Homo sapiens: one gene and its partners. The protein of the gene in region 4 purifies or fractionates together with the protein of the main gene of each other region. This does not show direct contact. Each region holds a gene or a part of one and is shown on either strand. Other genes may lie near its edges.

Evidence for each region.
Region 1: the proteins of SART3 (region 4) and EIF3H purify together in Homo sapiens (affinity purification with mass spectrometry; 2 studies listed by BioGRID, with this or other methods). This does not show direct contact.
Region 2: the proteins of SART3 (region 4) and NSA2 purify together in Homo sapiens (affinity purification with mass spectrometry; 2 studies listed by BioGRID and IntAct, with this or other methods). This does not show direct contact.
Region 3: the proteins of SART3 (region 4) and ACAD11 purify together in Homo sapiens (affinity purification with mass spectrometry; 2 studies listed by BioGRID and IntAct, with this or other methods). This does not show direct contact.

What each region holds. Positions count from the first base shown.
Region 1 is NC_000008.11:116,654,810-116,661,846, forward strand, and holds part of EIF3H (eukaryotic translation initiation factor 3 subunit H), read right to left. Parts: intron 4,172-7,037; coding exon 4,004-4,171; intron 2,506-4,003; coding exon 2,406-2,505; intron 1,197-2,405; coding exon 1,047-1,196; intron 1-1,046.
Region 2 is NC_000005.10:74,777,232-74,780,633, reverse strand, and holds the end of NSA2 (ribosome biogenesis protein NSA2 homolog), read right to left. Parts: 3' UTR 521-3,402; downstream 1-520. UniProt on the Homo sapiens protein: Involved in the biogenesis of the 60S ribosomal subunit. May play a part in the quality control of pre-60S particles.
Region 3 is NC_000003.12:132,656,773-132,664,717, forward strand, and holds the start of ACAD11 (acyl-CoA dehydrogenase family member 11), read right to left. Parts: upstream 3,038-7,945; 5' UTR 2,980-3,037; coding exon 2,831-2,979; exon of another isoform or gene 2,725-2,830; intron 1-2,724. Other genes in the region: UBA5 (ubiquitin-like modifier-activating enzyme 5), read left to right, coding at 3,766-3,926. UniProt on the Homo sapiens protein: Acyl-CoA dehydrogenase, that exhibits maximal activity towards saturated C22-CoA.
Region 4 is NC_000012.12:108,530,163-108,537,199, forward strand, and holds part of SART3 (spliceosome associated factor 3, U4/U6 recycling protein), read right to left. Parts: intron 6,624-7,037; coding exon 6,546-6,623; intron 6,411-6,545; coding exon 6,352-6,410; intron 5,307-6,351; coding exon 5,197-5,306; intron 2,173-5,196; coding exon 2,060-2,172; intron 1,119-2,059; coding exon 1,042-1,118; intron 149-1,041; coding exon 1-148. UniProt on the Homo sapiens protein: U6 snRNP-binding protein that functions as a recycling factor of the splicing machinery. Promotes the initial reassembly of U4 and U6 snRNPs following their ejection from the spliceosome during its maturation.

The DNA of each region.
Region 1 (7,037 bases), on a different chromosome or scaffold from region 4:
CCTACCCGTGCCAGAGCATAGAGAAGAACATTGATGTCTCTGGCCCTTCTGGGTTCATCCCACTTGCCTTATATCGAGGAAGTACAAAGTCTGTACACTTTTTTTTTTTTAACAAGTCTCTATCTAAGATAACTAGAAATCTGATAAATAATTTAGTCTGCTCCAAACTGGTTGCTTAAGAAAACACACCTTGTTTCTTTCAGCCAACAAGCATATATTGATTCTTTACCTACTCTGACCATTTAATTTCATTCCACAAGTCTGCTGCTAGCCTCCTTCCACCACAGACAAAATAATCACTAACATAACGCTCAAAGGGCATTTAAGAGGAGCTATACATGTGGCTCTATTCACATTTCTGTTAAGAGTAATAGATGAGGGGGAAATAAACATTAATTTAACAAAGGGAACAATACTTCCTTTTGGAAACCTCAATCTGCATTTTACAAATATAATAAACATTATCTCAGCAACTAGATAGCTAAGGCAGTCACGGTGGAGGAAATCGTTATCACCAACTAAAATAGGTGAAGCCAATGTCAGGTTCAGAAAATTCAAATTTTAGTTGAAAACTCAAACAACTGTAATTTTACAACTGCAAGAGTCTGCATCTGAACAAGGGTAAGTACAACCAGTAAAAGAAAAAAGCATTTCTGTTCTTTTCCTGAGCATTATTAAATATCCAGACCTAATACCCTAAGCCTCTTAGGATCGTGTACAAGAAATAAAGCTGAGCCATATAAAAAAGCCCTCCCTCTTGGGCACTGACCTTATCAAAGCACAAATGATACAGCAAAGAAGGCAGCAGAGGGTTCTTCTAATATGAGCAATTAGTATTCAAATAATGTGTTGTTTCATGTTATCAGTTTGGCGTTTTTCCCTGACATCCTAACAGGGCCAGACTATTACTCCATGTTATACATGTTTTAAGAACCTATAAACGTTCTTAAGTAACTGTTTTCTTGTTTCACAGGTAAAGTTTATGTGAAAGAATCTTTTGCAAAAAGTTCTAAAACATGGGCTTTTCATTAGGCAGGGCCACTTACCTGCTGGCAAGGCTGAGCAATTCATGTTTATCTGCAACAGCTGACTTCTTTTCAAGTTCCCACATTAGGACATTGATCAGATGTGAATTTTTAATTACAATCGGCACTTCTTCAAACATGTACTCAAAGGTGATATTTGCTTTTTTCAATCTGTGAAGCATGTTAAAAATACTTTAGTCTGATGGTCAAAAGTAAGTGCTAAACTGACTACTTCATAAAATTTACCTAATTACAGGCCCTATCCAAGATCTTTGTTTCATTAGCACTCTTAAAAAAAAAAAAAGTAGAGAAACTGGAGTTTTACAGAGTCAAGCATAAGTTGAGTGATTTGAGTAACTTTGAAAATGATGCGAATTTGAGCTAAAGCCCAGAAAATGAGATTCTTGGCAGAAGAAACTACTCATTCTTTGTTATCAGGTATCTTTAAAATTTCACTGATACTAAAATGTAAATGTCACAGTAAGTTATGCTACACAACCTACACCTACAACTTAATTTAAAATAGCTAGAAATGAGAAATACTCTATTTCTTGAAAAGTTCATTTAAAAAGCCTCTTGAATTAGAGTTTAACAAGTAGCAGAACACAAGGAGACTCCAGATACAATAGTTAGAACATGCCAAGAACACAGTTTCTCATAGATTAGTTATAACCACCACATCCAGGAATTGTTCATGAGTTAGCTTTTCTTTTAAAATTCTCTGCACCTTAACTTTTTAGGAGCCAAATGGGAAACTAGAGAAGAACCGTCCTACATGAAGTCAAAACCATTAATTTTGATTCAATAAGAACTAAAAATTTCTATAATTAACAGAAAATGGAAGAATTCTAAGTATTTAATTTATTTAAAGTAAATATTACAATGCCATTAAATAGGATCCCAAAACAGCTCCATCAGTTAATTCTCTGCATAACTGTCACCCATAAAATTTCCAATAAGCCACATTCTTTACCAAATTCTTAAAATGTTTATATCTTTCCCACCCCCTCATTAAACAAGGGTTCGGAAAATAAGACACACAGCTCACAACCAGTCTGACACAGAGCTTACAATCTGACAGCCACTGATCACTCTTTCCACCTCCCTTTATTCAATCATTTATTTCTTCGAATCCAGTAGCTAATTAATTCCCATTCTAACTGAATTCACCCTTGGTGAGAACAACAGATGAGATATTCCCTAAAGAATAATTTAAACATGGAAAGGGAGAGAGCAAGCAGCACTCGGCATGCAGAAAACTTCTACAGTCCACATGGCAAAAGCATTACCACACCACAACCAAGGATTCAAGAGATGTGGCAAAGAAAAATCTTAACAGAAAAATACCCAACCCTTTACCAGATGCCCCCAAACACTTACGCTTCAGGGGAAAAATCCTTTTCTTTACAAACTTCCATCAGTTTAGGAGTCAGTCTGTATGCCTTTAGTGAGAGAGATCCTTGGGCAGTTTTTATGGGATCTCAAACAAGGAAAGAGAAATAAATTACTAAGAATTTTGTCACTGCCAGGCTTGAATGGCATTGGTTCTAGGCACATTCTGTTACATATCGCACAATCTTTGCAAAATAAAGATCAAAATAAACAACCAGAACACAACTTGAAGCAGACTCAAAGCACTATTGCAAATAGCACTTGAAAATGCAGGAATACCTCTATCCTACTTACAATAGAGTAATTTCCTCTGTCAAAAACTAAAGATGCAAAAGAGTTATTTTCAAATTCATTCCTCAGCAAGAACTAGTAACCTTGCTGAAAATTAAATGTATCATATGTTCTAGACATATTGTATAATTAGGAAATCACTGATAAATATTAAACATGAAAATTCACTGCATGTACTTGGGTAGCTCCTCATTCAACTTAAAATGAATAGCCCCGCACACAAAATTTATCAATCCTAATAATCACTGTTCACATTTCTTCGTTAAAACAGATTGTAAAAACAAAACCATTCAAGTCAAACTGCTATCACAAAAGTGTCTTTCTGGTTTTGGAGAAACTAATTTTGTCAAAGCTAACCGCTGAAACACTCCATGAGTAAGGGAGCTTAGCACTTGCTGCATGATAACGGCTCTGGCATGCCAATATTCGCCTAAAACCTGTGTTAACATTCATGTTGTCTGAAACTTAACACAGTGAAACTTTTAGCAATAGGTGATAAAATGAAAACCAAAATAGATTGAAACAAGTGGAAAATTCATCAAGGTCTGATGATGCAATGTTTCCAGCCAATATAAGTATACTTTAACAACTTGTTCTTTACTGTAATCCAATTGTTAACATACTGAAACAATTTTGGGGCAGCTCATAAGATTGATCGTATTCATTAGTATTTTTTCTGACAGATACTCAGGACGTTACATTTACTTCTCAGCTGGAAACTATATGCAAGTCTGCCAGATATGGCAAACTGTGAGTGTTTGGGGAGGGGGAAGGCTATAAAGCTGTTAAATTGCCTACAGTTCTGATACAGCACAGAACATCTGGTCTGGAGAGCTTGAGGAAACACCATTAAATAGGCCGAAAAGAAAAAAATCTTTGTGCTAAGAAACAGTCCAGGTTTTGTACGCTGTTGTCAGAGGTATAAAAAAAACTTGGCACACCGTATTATGATTGGTCAGTCACGTACAGAGCCAGACACTCTAGCAATCGGGGTTTGTTAGACATCTGGTCTAGTTCCACCAGCCCCTTCAATGAGGGAGGGGAGATGGAGGAATAGAAATGAAGCAGCTACTCCAGCATTCCAAAATGTACACATCAGGGCTCTGATAGCAAGAAAAATAAACAGAAAGAAGGAAACCCTGTCTAGACTGAGCTGCTGCTGAGGCTGCTGCAGAAACAGGGTTGGTATTTACTTGAGAAGGCCTGCCAGACTGCTCTTAGAGGCAAAAAGGACAGAAAGCAAAAATAGTAGTAATAATATTAAGGGAAAAAAGAATAATAAACCTCCTACTAACCATAAATGAGAACGACAGATTCTTCAATGGCATGCTGGTAACTAAACTGAGAGTCCAGGAGTGCCCGGGTAACGAATGAGCCATAGTATGTGGACTGATACCAGCCCACGTGAAGATGATCAATGTTTACATGGCGAAGGCTCCGCATCATTTCCATCTGATATTGGACTGGATGATGGGGAAGAGGAAATTAAAAGAAAAAACTTTTTAATGATGTTACCAACATCAAAAACAAGCCGTTTTGGAAACAAATGTCTACATAACAATTTATTAGCAATAGGGAACAGGATTCCAGATTTAAAATTCATTCAGTTCACATATAAAGCAAAACAAAATTAGGCTTTTAAATCATCAGGGGTTTCCTTTTATTCTTTAATGAAAAAATATTTTGTAGAAAATGTATTACACACAATATTAATACCTTGTTCTAACCAAAGAATTATTAAATGTGGCGTCTAACTCCCCTTTTTGAAACTCTCAAAATAGTAAATGTTTAAGAAAAATTTGTGTAATTACTAAATTGGTTGGTTGTAAGAAGTTTCATTTGAATTAATAAAAGAGGAAGAGTTATCAATCTCTTCTTCAACACAGCTTTTAGAGCTGAGAAACTAAAACCATTAGGAAAACTAAGGAGAAACAACTACCAACCACACTGCTTATATATGAAGAGGATACAGGCTGTAGCTGATTCAAAATGTAAGAGTACATTTTTGCCTTCATCTGGTGCCCCCTGCTGCATATGCTAAATTTTTTAAAGAATTATTTTTTCTTGTCTGTGTGTTCCTTTAAGTAACAGATACTATGTTTTCCTTAGAATAAAGTTATATTTTAATGACCATGTATAGAATGAAAAGGTTTAGTGACTTTTACTTTTGTCAAATTAATGACTACAAAGTATAGTAATGACTATAATGTATACTATATTAAAGCAGTATTACCAGAAAAACAGATTAAAACTAGCAATATAATAAACGACATTTTAAAAAGCAATATAGCACAATAATGCACAGCAAATATATAATACAGGAGAAAACTTTATAGTCAACATAATAGCCATGCTATTTCTATTATTATTTATTATTATTATTATTGACACAGGGTTTCACTCCCATTGCCCAGGCTGGAGTACAATGGCCTGATCTTGGCTCACTGCAACCTCTGCCTCCCGGGCTCAAGTGATTCTTTTGATTTAGCCTCCCAAGTAGCTGGGACTACAGGTGTGAACCACCGCACCCGGCTAATTTTTGTATTGTTTTTTTGTAGAGATGGGGTTTCACCATGTTGCCCAGCCTGGTCTCGTACTCCTAGGATCAAAGAATCCACCCACCTCGGCCTCCCAAAGTGTTGGGATTGCAGGCATGAGCCACTGCATCCAGCCCCAAACTATTTCTATTATAATGAATACATGACCATGCTGAGTAAACGTATTTGCTTAACTTGAAACCTGTTTCATTTTCAAAATTCTTACTCAGGTTTTAGCAAAAGAAAAGTTATATATCTGTCATTCTTTTGGTTATACCACTATGGTTTTACAAAGCCTACAAGACTCAGGATCATAAAGTATAAAAGAGTGTTCCTCAGATGGACACAGTCTGATTTTTCATTACTTGTAGGAGAAGAAGTTATAAATCTGCTTATTCCAAGGAAGGTTACAGTTCTCATGCTAAAAGATGGCAGCCAACTCATCAACTACACAAGAATTGCGTGTTTTTTGAGATTTTTTTTTTGCTATGTAGAAAAGCTAAACAAACAAACAAAAACAACCAAAGTTATTTTGCCACTATCTGAAGAGACTTTCTTAAGCCTACGGCAATGTTGCAACAGAGCTGGAAACTGCACTACTGTAAAGATGTACAGTTTAAGTGCCTGTTTTGAAAGTGGGCTCATTTATTCATAAAAAGGAAAAAAAGTGTTAATATAGAGGAAGTTAGGCTACTAAGGGTATGGGGGAGAAGGTGATACCAGACACCAGACACCAGATACCAGACACCAGACACTTTGTATACCAAACCAGTGTTTCTGTATATTTATGAATAAAATACAAAATCAAAGTCATATAACCTATGCTATACTCTAAACCACCATTAAAAACATCACTACCTTAGAAACCTATTTTATACACAATATGACAGCCGAAAAAGCAGTATGAAATATGATAATCTTACACCAATTATTTTTTATCTTCATATTTTATTTCTCTAGCATGTAAGAGGAACCTCACCTCCCCCCAGCTAGTTTAACAGATTCACATCAACCACATAAATTTGGCAAGTGGGATAGAATCACTGCTATGATCTCCTTCTGTTTCGAAATTCCATAATTCTTTTAAATCAAAGTAAAATCACTGATTTGGCTAATAAATTTTAATCAAATTTAATTTATGAGTGAAAAGTCCCAGTATTATAAGTAAAATGGGAGCTGAAACTGAATTTGCTATTTATTTTAAAGGGAAAGGGAAGAGGAGAGATTAAGCAACTGACAGAACGAGTAAGATTTTAAAAAACATTATTTTTAAATCAAAACTTATGCAACGTATTAGTATAAAATTTAGCTACAATATAAGAAGAGGTTGGAGTCTGCCAACTTATAATAGCAGAAAAGAAAGACTTGGAATCTAGAGGTCGAGGTTCTCATGCCAGCTCTGAGATTTCCCCTGTGGGGATCTTGCTGTACAGTTAATAATTCTTCTTTGATATTTAATTTTCCCATCTCCAAAGAGATCTGAGAACCCAATCCCAGTCAAAACGCTATTATTCCACATTGTTCACTGGACATACTAATTATAAATAAAGAATTTTCTATTAGCTAAAGGGGCCTCCAGCATGCATTATGATTTAAAATAAAAATACATTCCTCTGAAAAATATTCTGTAATCTTGCTAAGTCTGTCCTCAAATAGCCTGAATACAAGAGATTCTCTAACAGCATTTCAGGATACACAAGGTAAAAAACTCCAAGATCCATAGCAAACTTCCAAATTTCTTCTTTATCCAGAGTCTTACCTATTCTACAGCACCTCTGATAAGGGTAAGAAT
Region 2 (3,402 bases), on a different chromosome or scaffold from region 4:
TGGAGACATGGTTTAATTTGGACTTCTGGTCCTGATCAGATAGATAAATTAAGCTGGAGATTTTACTTTTATCCCAACCCAGTTAACATCTATATTTCAGAAGTATGAGGCTCCTTCCTAAGGCATCTCCTTAAATCTTGCCACCTCCCTAATTCTACAGTCTTATTTATATTCCCCCACAGCTTTCATCTACTTCTGTAACTCATGGAGTGATTCTCCAATCAACAGATCTTCCTGCCTGCCGGCTTATGCCCTTGATGTCCATTTTTGGGTAGGTTTGGAGGTGCACCCCACAATGTTAGACCTATATGGCAGGAGTAAAACTGCCCCCAGTGTTAGACCTATATGGCAGGGGTAAACTGCCTTTGGGGGAGCTGTGGTTACAAGGGCTTCAATCATATTGGAGGCTTCAATCATCCTTTGATTTGTACTGAGTACTGGTTGCAAGCTGGCCTGTTAAGTATATATTGTGTTGCCATAACAAAGGCCTAGGAAAATTTGAAGAAAAAAAACACTGAACTGTTATTTTTTGTAATTTATTTAAAAATGGACAAAATGGTTATTAGAATCCAAAGATAATCTAAAAACAGTTCTACTCTTTGGAAATATTATGTGTACTCAAATTTGCACTTAAGTTGGAGAATGTTTTGAGACCATTTAAATTGTTTTAAAAATAGCTTGATCTTGATCCTTATGCAAAAGAAACTAAGACTTTGTGTCATTATTTGAGGTAGCTAAGGACTGATGTTGAAAGTGTATTCAGTCTATAGTAAGCTGATGTCAGGTCAGTAAATTTTGTTTGGGGATGTTGGTATTTTCGATCAAGTTAAAATCTTAAAGCAGACAAAAATAGTAAACGCTCCTATTTGTGTTAGATTTTGAACAATTGTATTACCCTATATTTTCTTTAATTAGTCAAAGGTAAGCCAGATTATTTCATTCTAAATGAAAATTAAAGCACTTTGGCCATTTATTTTTTCAACAAATGCTAATACTAAGTAAAAAAAAAAAAGTATGACTACTATTAGTGAATCTACCAAACATTTATGCTGTTTTATACATTTTATGAGAAACTTCTGTCAATATCACAAAGGGAAATACTCTGTTAAGATTCAGTAAATTCTTAATCTTTACATGTTTCATTTCTTAGATTTGAAAACACTTGTAGATATTTTATTTTTACTTGGATTTGTTTAAAATACTTTCTTTTCAAATTATTTTAAACATGGAAACGCTTCATGAATTTGTGTCATCCTTGCACAGGGGCCATGCTAATTTTCCCTGTATTGTTCTAATTTTAGTATATGTGCTGCCGAAGTGAGCACTAAAAGACTTTCTTTAGACAAGTGTAGTTTTTTAAAGATTGAGCTCACTGGCTCAACTCTTGATGTGTGAATATAGTTGAGTTTACAAAAAATGTTTATTAATCATATATGACCATTGGGGGCTAACAGTATAAACTTATTCTTGTTAAACTTGTTTGGGTTAAATAGTAAGTGAATTGTAAACAATTTAGAAGTTTTTTGTTCAGCACACAAGAACACTTCTGTTACAGATTCTCTCTGACAGAAATTGTTATTTTGGGGTTTATAGATTATAGAGGGAAAAGTTAGATCACTTGGAAAAACCTAACTCTCATGTTCAGTAACTTGAGTATAGAATTTATACCACAATTTATCTTCAATAAGGAACCTACATGAACTTAATCAGTTATCTGTAGTTTTTGCAAGGCATTAGAAAAAATTTCACAATTACAGAGGACTGAAAATGTGATTTCAACCGGCTAGTCTAGTTGTTGAATGTCCAGTCACATTACACATAGTCCTTTGTGAACTTATTTGTGAAGGGAGTTCACTTTTTATGTACATACGTGTATATTTCCTTGTGTAATATAAAGCAGATGGTTATTAGTATTTTAGTTCTTTCAAGTTTAAATTATTCAATTGCTAGACATCACAGAAATTAGTATATTTAAGAATTTATTATAAAGCTCCTCTACAACTTTTAAAGGTGAGAGGGTCTATTATGATTTTTTTATAAAATCAAACAGCATGATTTAGAACGTCAGTCTTCTACTTAAAATGTGTCTATATTCATGGTATTTCCATTCAGTGTAGATGGTAAGGAAAACATCTAGTCATTAAAGATTTACTTATAGCAGACTCCAGAACACTACCTACAATGGGGTTTCAGTGACTAGAAATCTTGAAGGTTTATGATTGCATCAAATTGAGCCTGTACTAATATCTAAATATCTGCTCTTATGTTCTGCTTTATCCCTTGGGATTACCTTCTAAGGTTTGGTCACACCAGCAAACTGAAACAGATCTTAATGTACATAAAAAATTTATACTAATATTACTCATCTGTGTTACAGTATTTTGAAAAATGTTTCAGGTGTCATCTAGTCGTCTTTCATGGGTGTGATTAGTTACAAATGTTATGCTTATGTTTTCATACTTAATATCAAGCTTTCTTTGTACCTTACAAGATAGTATTTTTGGTTCTAAAAAAAACAAGCAAACTTCATTTTTGTAGTATCCAGAAATTACCTGGAGTCAGTATTTTTATTCGCCTTCTAGAACTTGTGATCCACACATCACCCATTTATATTAGTGGTAAAATTATCTGCTAAAATCTAATTGTAAGAAAGGCTTACCTTCTGTCATCAAGTGATTGTATCATCCTGGATCGTCATTTCCAAGGAACTAGCCTTTCTTTTCCTAAGCGTCTGTATGTGTTCTAAAACTTCCAGTATATATTTATAGAACTTAGAAAAAATGTTACATTATTCAGAGTAGCAAGTCTTACTGGAGTACCTATGTTTGTTTTCTTGGTTTTTATTTTTTTTTAAGTTTAAAAGTAGTAATTAAACCTATATTTTGTGATTGTTTCCTGGTCTGTGTTTTTAAATTCCTTTCCTTCAGTTTTCCTCATGAAGATGTTTCAGATACTGAATTTGTTTAGACATTGAATGACTTTGTTAAAGGCACAATTAATCACATTGGTTGTACTCTGAAGACAGACTTCTTTAAAAAAAAAATAAACAATTTAAAACAATGTGGTGATTATAGATTAATGTAATATACGCCATCCTTAAAACCACAACATATAACAGATCACAAAAGTGCTTTCACCAAGTTACAACCGTAAATCCTTACCTTTTTACATCATCTAAGTAACTGCAAATAAATTTCTCCTCAGGGAATCAGTGCAGTCTTCTTTTTCCTTTTAAAACTTAGCTGGAGTTACTTAAACTAATTCTTAATACTATTCTGAAAGTATAAATATATTGTTTAGAATACAGAAAATGCTAAGAGAGTACAAAGACTTTAGTATATTTTTTTCATTTTCATGATTCAAGTAGAAAATAGTGCCAAGTAGGTATTATTATACATGGTA
Region 3 (7,945 bases), on a different chromosome or scaffold from region 4:
TGAGCCACTGCACCCAGTCTATTGTCAGATTTTTTAAAAGTCAATTTGGTGGTGTGAAATGGTTTCTCATTGTGTTGTTTTTTTTTTTTTAATTTGCATTTCCCTTATTACTACAGTATAATAAAGTTGAGCATCATCAAGTTTTCGCCCATTTTTCTGGTGAGCTATTATAGTTATATTCTGAATATTTTAACCATTATATGCACTGAAAATATTTTCTTCTGTCTTTTCACTTTAAGTCTTTTAATGAAAATTTATCAGTCATTTCCTTTGTGGTTTCTGCTGTTGTCTTTAAAATATTTTCTTCTCTAAAGTCAAAAATATAACTTACACATCTTCCAAACATTTATAGTTTAACATTCAGTTCTTTTATCTACCTGGAACTGTGTGAGATAAAGAGTCTAATTTCTATTTCTTCATACAGATAACAATTATTCCAGTATAACTTCTTGAAAAGTTCTTCTTTTCCCCCCACTGACTCTCAGTGCCAACATTGTCACTTATCAAACTTCTATAAATATGTGGGTCTTTCTGTGAACTCTCTGTTCTATTTTATTGGTCTGTCTATCTCTGTGCTAATATCATACCATCTTAACTCAAATTTCCCACCTTGTGGTTCTTTAAAAATGTTTCTGCTATCCTTAGCCCTTCGCTCTTACACATAAAATTTAGGAGCACTTTTTCAAATTAGAGAAAAAAATTAGGATTTTGATTGTCATTGCTTTGAATCAATAGATCAACTGGAAGAAAAAAGTTTGCAATATTGAATATTCCTATTCAACAACATGGCATCTCTCAATTTTTAAAATTCTTTTTAAGGTCCTAATAAAAGTTTTATCATTTCTCTACAAAGGTATTGCACATCTTTTACTTAGGTAATTTATATTTTTGATGCTCCTGTAAGTTTTTGAAAATTACATTTTAACTGTTGCTAAAGTAGAGAAATGCAGTTGATTTCTGTACACTGAACTTTGATAGTCTTTTACTGTCTATGTAGATTATTGGCTCTTTAATCCATGAATCACTTAATTTATAAACATGTATTTGTTAGCTATCTTCTGTTAAACTTTTGGTATTAAAAAAACACATATTCCTTTTTTTTTTTTTTTTTTTTGAGTCTCACTCTGTCACCTAGGCTGGAGCATGGTGGTGCAATCTTGGCTCACTGCAACCTCCCTCTCCTGGTTCAAGCGATTCTCCTGCCTCAGCATCCCAAGTAGCTGGGACTACAGGCACGTGCCACCACGCCCGGCTAATTTTTGTATCTTTAGTAGAGATGGGGGTTTCACCATGTTGGCCAGGCTGGTCTTGAACTCCTGACCTCAAGTGATCCACGTGCCTCGGCCTCCCAAAGTGCTGGGATTACAAGTGTGAGTCACTGCACCTGGCCAAAACACACATTTTCAAAATATAAAGATTGATTCTTTTGAGTTTCTGAGACTTCCTTCATGGCCTATGTGTTTTCAATTTTTATAAACTTTTTCATGTGTCCTAGAAATGAATGTGTGTTCTCTGTGGGATCCAGAGTTCCATATATATTTATTAAACCAAGCTTATACAACATTTCTGGAAGCAATTTTTATACCACAACTAATTTACAACTAATTTCATTTTTTGAACACGGTTATGGTTTAACATTCAGCTTGGTTCAGAATTAAGTATCTTTCAGTTATGTACCTCTTCAACACTCCTACAATATGAACGTTACTATCTCCTTTTTGCCAAAGCAGGACTAGATGTTCAAAGGGTAACTTGTCCAAATTCCACAGCAATTGAAATAGTTGAAATTTGAACTTTGATCTGTTTCAGTTTGTTACAACACAAGGCTTCTAGCCTAGAAATCTCAGCTATTCTTTATTCCACCTTTCCCTTCATCTTCCAATATCTATTGGGACATGGGACCTTTAAATTCTACACCCTAAAATGTTCCCTGATCCATCTCATTTATTATTATTTTCATTTTCACCAAAATCAGTAGTCAAAGAATATAAATGCTAGTGATAAAATACCACTAGCACACTATGTTGTTGCAATTTTTACGCCCTTTCACCTATATTACGGTATTTCATTTCATTAATAAGACTAATCAAAATAGGTATTACAACTTAGGAAACTAGTTCTCAGAGTGTTTATGTAACATATTTAAACTCCCAGACAGCAAGTGACAGATCCAGTTTTCTGAATGATAGGACTCTTTCTGTAGCCCTGTATTAGTAACAATGTTATTTTTAGAATAAAGTTTTAAGAATGTATTATCTATTGTAAAACATCAGACTAAAGCCAGATTCCCGGTGGGGAACGCTACTCTCAGGATCCTCTCACTCAGTTCCATTACCTCACTTCAAAAAACCTGAGGCCCAAAGTGGTGCTGTGACCTCCTAAGTGGAAAAGCTAGTACTCGAATTCGGATCCTCCATCTGGTGTCATTAACTCAGCCTCCCGGAATACGGCCAATCAAACGGAATTACACCAGCTTCTCAGAAAAAGATCTAATGGCTGTATCACAAAAGAAGGCATCTATTTCTCAGAATTTGTAGCCTTAATTGCCTTGGTGAATCCTCAAGGGACATAAATCCATCCTTTAACAAAGATTCCTTTGGATAGTAGAATGGTGAACGTTATTGCGCTTCCATTACCGCCCTCCAATTGGGAAGCCCCCAGCATCGAATTCGGAGGGCCGGCAATAGCAGCTCATGCCTGTAGGGTGCGTCCACTGACTGCAGGAAAAGCAATCAGGGTGGGAGAAACTTAGGAAACCACCCAGGGCCAAAGGAAGGAAAACTCAATGTACAAATTTTTTTCCGCTGGAGGCAAAGGCTGACATCCATACCTGTACTGGGCAATGGTCAGCGTAGCCTCACGTTCGGCCCCAAAGCCAGACAAGTGCTGGTTTAGGTAGGCCTCCAGGGACTTGCTGTCGAACTTGTGCTGGGGCAGCACTTCGGCCAAATCGGACTCGCCAGTAGCACCTGGCTTCATGATCACCCCCGCAGGCCACAGCAACGCGGCATCCACAGGTCTCGAGTGCCGAAGTCCTTCAGGATTGGGGCAACGTCCCCTCTAGAGCATGGGCCGAGGCCGGGGTGGGGTCTGGCTCCAGCCAACCGCACACAGCCTACGCGCCGTTGCTGAGCAACGCTTGCCCGCTGAATCCCGAGGTTTTAGCTCTAGTCAAGTGCCAAAAGAGCCCAATGTGTGTTCGGGTTTCAATTCTCCAGTCAGCGTCAGAGTTGGAGGCCTCAATTTTAAAGAAGGCAAAGCCATGGTCATCGTTGCGGGTAAGGAACAACGCAGAAGCCTCTTCCACCCCCAAATTTAATGCAACAGCAGGCGGAAGACCTGCAGGGTCCCGTTCAGAAAAAGGGCCGTCAGACTGTCGAGCCTAAGAATAAAAAGACCCTGTTTCTCTTAGATACCCGGTTAGCAAGGCAACATCGCTGGCCTCCTGCCCTGGACACTTATCACCCCGGTGCTGCTGCGGCCGGGTTTAGCCGGCCCAGCGAGGAAGGAAGCCGAAAGAGCCAGGTTTTTGATGAGGGGGAGCGATGTCTGCGACGCACCGGAAGCGGCTCCGAGGAAGGCCTGTGGGAGTCTCGGAGACGTGTCTGTCTGTGAGGCGCTGGGTGCACGTCCCCAGGGCTCTGGGCTAGGAAGGCAGCGGCGAGGTGCCTCCCCACGTACCCCTCGCGGGCCCAGCCGAGCAACGTGGGGCGAAGGCGGCGGCGAAGGCCCGGGCTGGGAGCGTTGGCGGCCGGAGTCCCAGCCATGGCGGAGTCTGTGGAGCGCCTGCAGCAGCGGGTCCAGGAGCTGGAGCGGGAACTTGCCCAGGAGAGGAGTCTGCAGGTCCCGAGGAGCGGCGACGGAGGGGGCGGCCGGGTCCGCATCGAGAAGATGAGCTCAGAGGTGGTGGATTCGAATCCCTACAGGTAACCTGCGTCGCCGGTCGGAGGCAGGCGCGGGGGACGAGGTCAGGCTCCGTGAGGTCAGAAGTGAGGCGCTTCCCACGTCCCGCTCATGGGGACGCCCGCCACCCTTTTCTTGGTCTGCGAATCCTGTTCCCAAATGGGCAAGGCCACATCTTAGTACTGATCGGAAGATATTCTTTCTCTTTTTTAAAAACCTCCAGTGAGTCAGCCATATGGTGCTGCTCCTGTGCCTGCTGAGGACGTGTGTCCAGTTTCCTATCACCCTTGCCTCTTAATTAGTCCGCCTCGCTGTGTATAAGACTGATAGTAAGAACTTTCAGAAGATGAGATCAAATATTAAACCTGCTAAGGTAAACTTTGAGTTTCATTAAAGGCTTATCAATGCATCTTAAATGGGGTCGGGGCGGGGGAGAGCGGGGTTAGCTCTATTCTGAGATATTCGGGTGCTCCTTAACATCTCAAACCATTCGACATTACCAAGACTGCCCAGGCCTCTCTTTTCTTCTTTCCTAACAAAGCTTATCAATTCAGCAGATGGAATATAGTGCAATGGTTAAGGGTAAGGACTCTACCGCCAGACTGATTGCAATTCAAATCTAACTACTCTCTTCGTAACTGCCTAACCTTTGGCAAGTTGTGAAACTTTCCGCTTCAGCTTCTCACCTGTACAATGAAGATAATAGTAATATCTATCTCTGTCATAGTTGTGGGGATTGAAAAAATCAGTATGTATAAAGGTCTTAGAGTAGCGCTTGTACATGGCAAGCCTTATACAAGATTTTATTGCTAGGTGCATTTAGTAGCAAGCAGTTATTGAGCTTTCACTGTGTAAGCACTTTACATGCATTGTCTCCTCCCACCAAAACCCTATGAGATTGCTACTATTTTACCCCCATTATATAAGTGAGAAAATTGAGGCTTAGAGAGCCACCTCAGGTTCATGCCTTGGTAGTAAATAATAAGGCCTGTCTTGCATTAGATTTGTCTTAATGTAAAATTCTCATGAACCGTCTCCCCAGTAAAAACAATTAAGTCGTGTAGCTAAAAATTGTATAGTGTTAAAGTAGATAAGGAAGATTTTATTGTTGCTTTTTTCCTTTAAAGAGCATAACAGTTTTGATTTTTAAAAAAGGTTTTAGTTTGTGATATATAAAGCCGCAGTAGAAGTCTTAGGGTGCACTGTTTTAACTGTGTTGCCAAATATGAACGGTTAATGGTCCAGAATTTTTAGAGATTAAATAAGCATGAACTGACATCTCTAATCAGAATAAGTGGAAACTATTTGACATTTTTAAAACATTTTAAAATTTTACAAATGAAGACTTTGAAATTTTCCCTCCAGAATGAAAAGCAGAGGAATATGGGTCATGAATTTAAGTTGTCTTTCAGACATTATTTAATATGAGATGATCCCTTGACATTGTAATTATAACAAAACTTTCAGAACTCAAGTCTAAATATGTAGTATTTTCTATCTGATTTGCACCATTGACTTTATTAAAATTGCTATACAGGAGATGGCAGTTTGATACCCAAAGCTGTTCACTGATATATGGAATTTTAATAAAGTTCAGCTTTAATTTTTTGAATTGTTCATACAGCAAATATTTACTGAGTACATTTTTGTCTCCAGTCCTCCTTGACAATATTATTTACTTTGTATTGAGTACTTATTGTGTGCAGACACTGTGAATATAAAGTAGACATGGTCTTTTCCCTCTAGAGCTTACCAGATGAGTGTGAGATAAATAGAAAAGTAAACATGCCATTGCAGTACAGGTGATAAGAATTATGATAAAGTACAGTGTTATTATTGATAAAGTACAGGTTATTGAATTATGATAAAGTACAAAAGGTTATAGGAAAGGGATATGTATGTGTTCAACACCATTTTAATTGCTTCAAGAGATACAAAAGAAATATAAAGCACCTGACTTTTGCTTCAGTTTGAGAGACTACATGGAGGTGGGATATTAAAAAACACAAGTAACCGTAAAATTATGTGTTATGGAATATAGTTATAAGCATGTGGAAAAATTGGAGAGGCTTTGAGATTAGAAAACCTGGTATCAAATCCTGGCTCAGAAACCCAGCTCAGAATACCACTTGCCAGTTAGCTGATTTTGGGCAGTTGATTAACCCAAACCGTTTCCCTCATCTGTAAAAGGGGGTTGCCATCCATGCTTCTCAGATTATTTAAAGATTGAAGGGAGCATCAAGGTAAGGATAGCAAATTCCTGTGATGGATCTGCCATCACTTTCTACCCAACCTCACTAAAGTGACAGTAAAGGAATTTTTTAAAAGAAACTCCCATTGAAAATATAAAGGGTTCGTATTAATAACTGATAGGGAGGGGTGGGTCCCTGTACTTGATTATAGTAACAATTTGGAAACTAGAGAAGGGATGGGTGAAGGTAACTGATTTAATAGATTCAGAGAAGTTTAATCTTAAGCTCGCAACCCAGTTTATTGCAAGAATCCCCCAAAAGGCTCAGGAATAGGCACAGGTACTTGCAGAACTTCAGGTAGGGCTAAAAAAAACTTTCAGTTGAAAATCTGTTGAAGAAACAAAAGCCCCAGATCCCCTACTCCACTGTGGGTAACTGGGCAAACACTCCTTCCCTACCAGAAGAGGAGAGTAGAGATTTCTTCATTAGAAAGAGTAAAATAGAAGATTTCCAAGAATAATTGGGGCAGGTCTTTGTACCTGAAGGAAGGGGTAAACTGATTGTTTACATGCTGAATGCTGTGACTGAATGTAAACTAAATGCTTACATACTGAGTGTCGAGACTCCCAGCCTTGCTTCTTCACTTCCAACAGCTGATCGTGGGGTTGGAACTCCAACTCAGGTTGGAGTTTGAAAGATTATTCTCTAGGGAATCTGATAGAGCCAAGAGGAAAGACTGAAAGACACTGACATTGTGGGTTTCTCAACTAAATAGTCTGGCCAGATGACCCTACAGTGAAGTCCAAAGTCAAACAGTTATTGCCTATATTGTTACCTTTATTAGTGTCCCACACTTAAATATGAACAGAACAAAGGATGAAAGAAACTTCTAACATGAAAGAAATAAAAATAGCAACTTGGATAGACTATGTAAGATAAACACATCCCCCTAAATTATCATTAGTATCCTTAGATGAGAGAAGATATGGTACAAATGATACAGGAACAAGGTGCAAAGTATTTAGATGATCAGGAATTCTTGCAAATGGAGATGGTAATAGAAATGAAAATCTTAATAGAAGTGTTGGAAAATAAAGTTGAAAGAAATCATCCAGAGAATAGAGCAGAAAACTAAAATAGTAGATAACTGGAGAAAGAAGATAAAGGACAAATCCAGATGGTTCAACTTCCAAATAATAGGAGTTCCAGATAGTCCAGGAAAAACAAACCAAACAAGGAAGTAACCAGATTCTTCAAGGACATTTCCCAGAACTGAAAATGTGAGTTTTCATTTTGAAAGAGTCCACTAAAAACTCAGCACAAGGGATGAGAACAGATTCACATTAAGGCACACTGTGAAATTTTACAAGCTAGGAGACACTGGAGCAATACCTTAAAATGTTGAAAGACAATTCTAACTTTAGACTTCTTTACCAAGTTAAACTATCGATTAAGAGTATATGTGTAGCTTCCCACAATTATATGCCCTTTGCTTTGTCATTTTTATAAAGAATATAATTTTGATAAGGAACATTTTCAGAAATGAAAGTTCTCAAAATTTACCTTTGCCGTACCCTTTGCAAAACTACTGGAAGATGTTCTTCTAACCACAGCAAGAGAGTAAGTTTAAAAATAATTGATGACAGTGTTTTAAACTGTCATGTGCATCAGAATTACTGGAGGGCTTGTTAAAGCAAATTGTTGGACTCCACATTCAAGATTTCTGATTCAGTGGGTGATTATAGGGTAGGGCCTAAGAAATTGCATTTCTATTAAATTCTCAGGTGGTCCTGTTGTTGATCCATAGACACTTTAGAACTAGTGAGCTATAGCATACAGGAAACAGTGGA
Region 4 (7,037 bases):
CTTTCTCATCATCCTCATCTGCTCCGCGCTTCTCTGGGCCTCTGATCTTTTTCTTCTTTTTTAACGCTTTCTTCTCAGCCCGAGCTCTTTTCCGTTGTTCAGCCTTTTCTTCTTCTTGCTGCACAAGGGCTGCTTCCTTCTCTGCAGCCTAGAAAAGTGGGAAGATGATGCATCGCTGGATGTGGCAATTACATTCACTGTACTGATTTGTCATGAAAGGGGAGAAGGAGTGGAAATTCATTACTAATGAAAAGCAGAGATCAGGAGAAAAACGTGGACAGGCTCACGGCTGTTCCACACCAGGGCTCATTCAGGTTCGTTGGAATTCTGGATCTGATGTCTCTGTTACATTAGCAATTTCCTCACCCTAATCATTACTCACCAAAAGGAAGGCAAAAAAATCCATAAAACTGGCCGGGCGCGGTGGCTCACGCCTGTAATCCCAGCACTTTGGGAGGCCGAGATGGGTGGATCACGAGGTCAGGAGATCGAGACCATCCTAGCTAACATGGTGAAACCCCATCTCTACTAAAAAAATACAAAAAATTAGCTAGGTGTGGTAGCGGGCACCTGTAGTCCCAGCTACTCGAGAAGCTGAGGCAGAAGAATGGCGTGAACCCGGGAGGCAGAGCTTGCAGTGAGCCGAGATCATGCCACTGCACTCCAGCCTGGGCAACAGAGCGAGACTCCGTCTCAAAAAAAAAAAAATCCATAAAACTGAAGCCCTAAATAAGTTGGGGTGTTCATGTTCCACTCACTAGGCTAAGTGAGGCTCTTCTTTATTCTTTTTCATCAATTCTCGTAAATTTTAGAGCCAAAATTCCCTCACTAAATGAAACAAGTACTTAATATTGGGGCTGATGTTTTAGAACAATGTAAAAATGACACAAGACAGGTTTAAGCATTGATCTAAATATTTTATAATTAATACTGAGTAAAAGACACTTAGGAAAATGTAAAACATCTTGACAAGAAACATCCATACCAAACTGAGCCAAAATAGCTACCAGAGGTGCCAAAGACTTCAAACATTGTCATTACCTTCATTCTCTGCTCATTGACACGAGCTAATCGGGTTTCAGTTTTCTGAACAGCTATATCCCAATCTTCTAAAGAACCTTGAAAGAAAGAGAAGCAAAACTTTCACTCTTTAGGATTTTGAAGGATACAATCACATAAATTTTTCTTAATTTCTCTGTACCTCCAGAAGAGATCTCTCCCATCAAACAATAAGAAAATGTAATCCCTGTAGGCTTGAAGTTCAGAATTCAAATAGTCCTTCTAAGTGGGTTTAAAATGTCCCTCTCCTTTCAGGAGAGACTTGAAAACCAGAATATGATCTATTAAGGGCTCTAAATGGCAAAGAATATGAAAACGAACGTTCTAATGCAAAAGTACATTTATATTAAGACTGAAGAATTTTAAGAGCTACTCAAATGTTGAGGCATTTATTTCTTATTTTTTGGTGGTCTTTGCAAGCCAGTTCTGAGGGGTCCATACCCAAAATCCAGACCAATACCCACAGATAAGTTCACATTATTTTTCTATTGGTTCTAGCTAACACTGAAGGCTCTGAAATTTAACAAGGGATGCAAAGGACACATTGAGCCATTTGCCTCTCCAAGCTCCTTTGTTGGATAGATGTTGTACTAGAGCACAGTGACTCTCAAAGGAGGGATCCTGCCCATCAAGAGACATTTGGCAATGTTAAGAGACATTTCTGGTTGTCATGTTTGGTTGTGGTGGTGAAGCTGCTACTGGCATTTCAGGGCTAGAAGCCAGGGATGCCCCTAAACATTGTATAACGCACAGTCCCCCCCACAGAGAATTAGAACCCTGTGCTACAGTGACATCACAGAGTCCTCCTTGTAGCTGCAGAATTTGAGAAGAGCTGCAGGAGGACTCATTTTCAGGACACTTGTGACAGTCTAATCATAGGGCACCACCTAAGGTGGCAGCATAAACACAGTCTGTCCCCAGACTGTAACCAGATGCTCCTACTTGAGACCAAACAGCAAATGGGTTAGGCTCCAAGCCAGAAGAGAGCTGGGGGTCCCACCTTCTGTCCTCTCCATGGTGAGTAACACTTCGCAGACGTGCTCTGGGTAGTCACTGGTGCACTGGACGGCCCGGTGCAGAGCCTTCCGGCAGTGCTGGGTGTCACCATGAGCTCTAAGGCAGAAAACAAAAAGTTGCTGCCACCAGGACACAAAGTGGAAGGCACTCGAAGGGAGAGGCCGTCTTCTCCCAGGTAGAAACTCACTCTTCAGTAACTCTAGCTTCTGAGAAGACCTTAGCTTTCAGATCTATCCATGATGCTTTCTCCTTCCAGAGTCTCTACAGTCACCTACGAAGTATTTCCCTGAAGCACTCTCTCCCTCAGCCATGTAGGGGCTACTGGAAAGTGTACCTGATATTGTGATCTGCAACCAGCATTCTGCCTTTACAGCATTCACATGTGCGGCACATGGCGGGGGAGTCCAACAGCTCTCTGTAACCTGATACAGTCCCCAGGGAAATTTTACTATGGCGTCCTACTGACAGGAGAGTTATGAATCCAGGGTAGTGTCAAATTTCATACCCAGAGTCAGATCTTTTTTTTTTTTTTGAAAGGGAGTCTCGCTCTTGTCACCCAGGTGGGAGTGCAATAGCACGATCTCGGCTCACTCCAACCTCTGTCTCCCAGGTTCAGGCAATTCTCCTGCTTCAGCCTCCTGAGTAGCTGGGATTACAGGTGCCCACCACTACACCCAGCTAATTTTTGTATTTCTAATAGAGACAGGTTTTCACCAGGTTGGCAAGGCTGGTCGCAAACAGATCCTTTTTGTACACTGCTAATCACAACAGCTACACAATTCTGCTAATCATAACTGTTATGCAACAGTGTATTCATATTTGTTTTTAAAACATTTTAAATATACATAATTATATATACATATTATGATGCTCAGAATAAATTCAGAGCACTGGTTCTCAAAGTAAGATCCACGTACCCCTGAGGATCTCCCAGAGCCTCTCAGGGGCCCTGCAAAGTCAAAACTCCTTTTATAATAATACCAAGACATTACTGGACTTTTTCACTGTGTTGACATCTTCAAGACAGTGCACAAGTAATGGTGGCCCTTAGCACAAATCAAGGCAGTAGAAATCTTTTTAATGCACTGTGTGATGAAATACTAAGTACACTTAAAGCCCTTCTGCATACTGAAGTACAATGGTTATTGCCAAAAAAAAAAAAAAAAGCATATTACTGTTTGAGTTGCAAGCTAATCAAGTCATTTTTTTCAAGGACACCATTTTTACTTGAAAGGAAACTTGAGTGACAAACCACGGTCAGTTACTCAGACCTGGGTATTTGGCAGACATTTTTGAAAATTAACAAAGTGAGGCTGCCACTCTGGGGAAAACCACTGACATTATTTGTTGCATGTGATAGAATTCAAGCTTTCAAGTGAAAATTAGAATTTTGGAAAACTTGTATCTGCCACCACAAGTCTGACAGCTTCCTACTTAAAATACTTTTCAACTAAGATCAATACAGATATGAACAAATACGATTTTTTAATACTATAGGATGAAATATGTCAACATTGGAAGAGCTGCATGATTTAGTGAATTGGGATTTTTCCAAATAATGTCGTAGAATTGTGGCATCAAGTAAAAGATAAAATAGACAAATGGGTATTACTGTAACAGACTCTGTCAATATGGTTTCAGATTCCACATGCAACACTGAAGTTTTGCTATAATATGTATGAAAGAAGAATACCCACAATTATCTGAAAATGCTTCTAAAATACCTTTCTTTCCTAACCTCTTCAATGAAAACAACAGATCACAACAGACAGAATCAGTAACAGACATGAGAATTTAGCTGTCTTCTCCTAGGTCAGAATAATGTGCAAATAAATATATTTGCAAAAATAGAAAACACTGCCACTTTTCTCACTATATTATTTTGGGGTCTGGAAAACAGTCACTGCTCAAAAAAGATATTAATGTTAGATAATTTGTTATATTTAAATAAATTAAAATGTTTTTTAGATTTCTCAATTTATAAATTATAAATATCAATAGATATAACTCACATACATAAAAGTTTTTTGGGATCCTCCAATTTTAAGAGTGGAAAATGGATCCTGAGACCAAAAAAATTGTGAACTGCAGATCTAGGGGGATATTCAACAAGCTTTAACAGTGGTTATCTCTGGGGTGGGATTGTAAGAAACTGTCACGTTTAGCCGGATATGGTGGCTCATGCCTGTAATTCCTACACTTTGGGAGGCCGAGGTAGGAGGATCACTTGAGGTCAGCATGACCTACATGGTGAAACTGTGCCTCTTCTAAAAAAAAAAAAAAATCCAAAAATTAGCCAGGTGTGGTGGTGCACGCCTGTAATCCCAGCTACTCAAGAGGCTGAGGCAGAAGAATTGCTCGAACCCAGGAGGCAAGGTTGCAGCTGAGACTGCACCACTGCACTTCAGCCTGGGCAACAGAGTGAGACTCCCCACCTCCCCCGAAAAAAGAAAAGAAACTGTCGCTTTCTATCACATATTTTTGTAAATATTCTAATTTGGGCACACAGTGTTTTTTAAATAGGGAAAAAATCTTCAAAAAAGAAAACCCAGCAATGTAGCAATGTTATGCAATGAACAACGTTCAAGACAGACTGAAAAGTTGGTCACATTCTTTATGTTTTCCCCATGTTATAAATATTGTTAGGCCTATCTTATTTCGTTCAAATAGTTTTAAAGGCTTGTAACACATGCATGCTATAATTGCATTTTCATTACAAAAAAATTTAAACATAGAAAAGTCTCAAAGAATGGGTCATGGTTATGACTGGGTCAGTAATTTGAGTTTTTTTTCTCTTAGCTTTTTAGTATTTTCTACTTTTCTATAAAAGCAAATATAAAAAACAAATAGCTCCAAAAGGTCAAATAAAATATCATGCCCAAAAATCAAGACAAAAACAAATTAAAAGAAATGCATGGCTATAAGAGTTCCAGGCACAAAATATCATGTCTGGTTCTCTAGCCCTGCCCATTAAAAATGTACCCACTACTGAAAGAGACAGAATGAAAGAAAACAGCCCAGTTCTAAGGAGCTAGTCCAAGCTGGTAGGAGTCAGCCAGGAGTGAAGACAGGTGCACAGCTGACAAGCACTGCCTCCCTCCCCACCCCGAGATCAGTTACCTTTCCAGGTTGTAATACTCTAGCCACATGTTGGCGTACTTGGCATTTCCTCTGGTCATGATGCTATCCCAGAGTTCCCGAGCTTTCTGCATGTTATTGCACAGTCGAGCCTAAAGTGCATCAGCAGGCTGTTAGGAGACCTGAACCTTATGACGTCGACACCCATCATACAACACACTTCCAACAGACACACATAAAAAGCACCCCACAACTATTAGTGTTACAGATGTCCCTGGGCATTCCCCAGGCCTCCCTCCAGTGGTAAACGACCCAGCCCAAACACTTGAGCCTTTCTGCAGCCACAAGCTAATCTACCTATGTTTCCTGAGAACCGAGAGAGGGAGCGCACGGTACTTACTCGACAGTACTAGATAGTCACGTTTTTTATTTTTATCAAGCTTAACTACAAGTGTTTGAGAGACAATGTTAAAAAAAAAAAAAAGACTGATCTAGTATTAAATGCACACTCTGCTACTAATACTTACAAACTGTGACTTGGGCAAATTACTTAACCTGTAATTCTCAGTTTTCTCATCTTTAAAATGGTTAAAAGATAAGCATCCCATATAAAAACTACCTGACAAATGTTAGTTTCTTCTATCTGACGCTCCCTCCGAGGAGAAAACATGATTAGAATTGTTACAATCCTACCTGCTGATCAAGGGAGGTTCCGTGTCTTACTGACCTTGGTGTCCCTGACCCAGTAATGACATTCAAGTCATCATATCCTCTAATTACTTGTCAAATCATCTGTCTTCTACATTAGATAGAAGCCTTACTAGCAAAGGAATTTTATCTGTCTTATTCCCACAGCACCTAGTACAGTGCTGACAAACAGTACACGCTCACTGTGCTCTCACAAATGAAGCAAAGAGGCAGAGACAGAAGTAAACGAGTGAATACCTAGCATCTAAACATTTACTGCACAACTTCTAGCTGGGAGCTAATATTTTCACCAACATATTTACAAATATATGTCAAGCTAGGTAAATAACATGAATCCTTGTGGAGCCTAGACCATTACCTAGGTAATAACATAAATCCTTATAGAGCTTAGGCCATTATCTGGGATTCTGACTCAATTTTAATTAAAGTTTAATAGGATGCTATTAAACAATGATGGATGAAAGTGCTAGATGTGTCAAAAACATTTACCTCAATCCTAGCCCAGTTCTGCATAATCACGCAGCTTGGATCACCACTCTCATTGAAACCTTCAAAAACAGAATTAGTAAAATTAGAAAGGAACTTGGAGACAGATAGTCGCTGGCTGAAAAGGTACATCAACCAGGAAATAGTACAGACAAGGAAATACAACTGGGCAAAACCACAGGCTGGGGCATACTTACGCTCTTCCACCTCCTGCTTCAGATACTCCAAGGCACGAGTAAAGGCGGCCCTCAACTCCTCCAGCTCTTTACTGGAGTCTAACGGAAAGTGCAAAAAAAGGCTTTAGGAAACCACATAGCCTGGCTTTGTTTTATTTTTTATCCTATGCTGAAACTGCCTGGAGACCCACTATGTACCTGGCATCATGCAAGGGACACAGAAATAAAATTGCCAATTCCTGCCCTCATCACATAGTTGGGGAGAAAGAAATTTGAACAGAATAGAGCATGGACAGCGTGGTGAAAAAGGCAAACACAGGGTGCTGTGGGGGGGAGTCTCCCCCAGCTGGGGTGACACAGGCAAACAAGAGAATGGCTAAAGGCTACCTGTATGAGGTGACAGCTGACATGAGTGTGCAAGTACAAGTTAGGGGTTTTCTGGTTGTTTTCGGGGGGACATGAAGGGGCAAAGGATCCCACAGAGGTACAAAGATTTTTCTAAAACACAGCAGA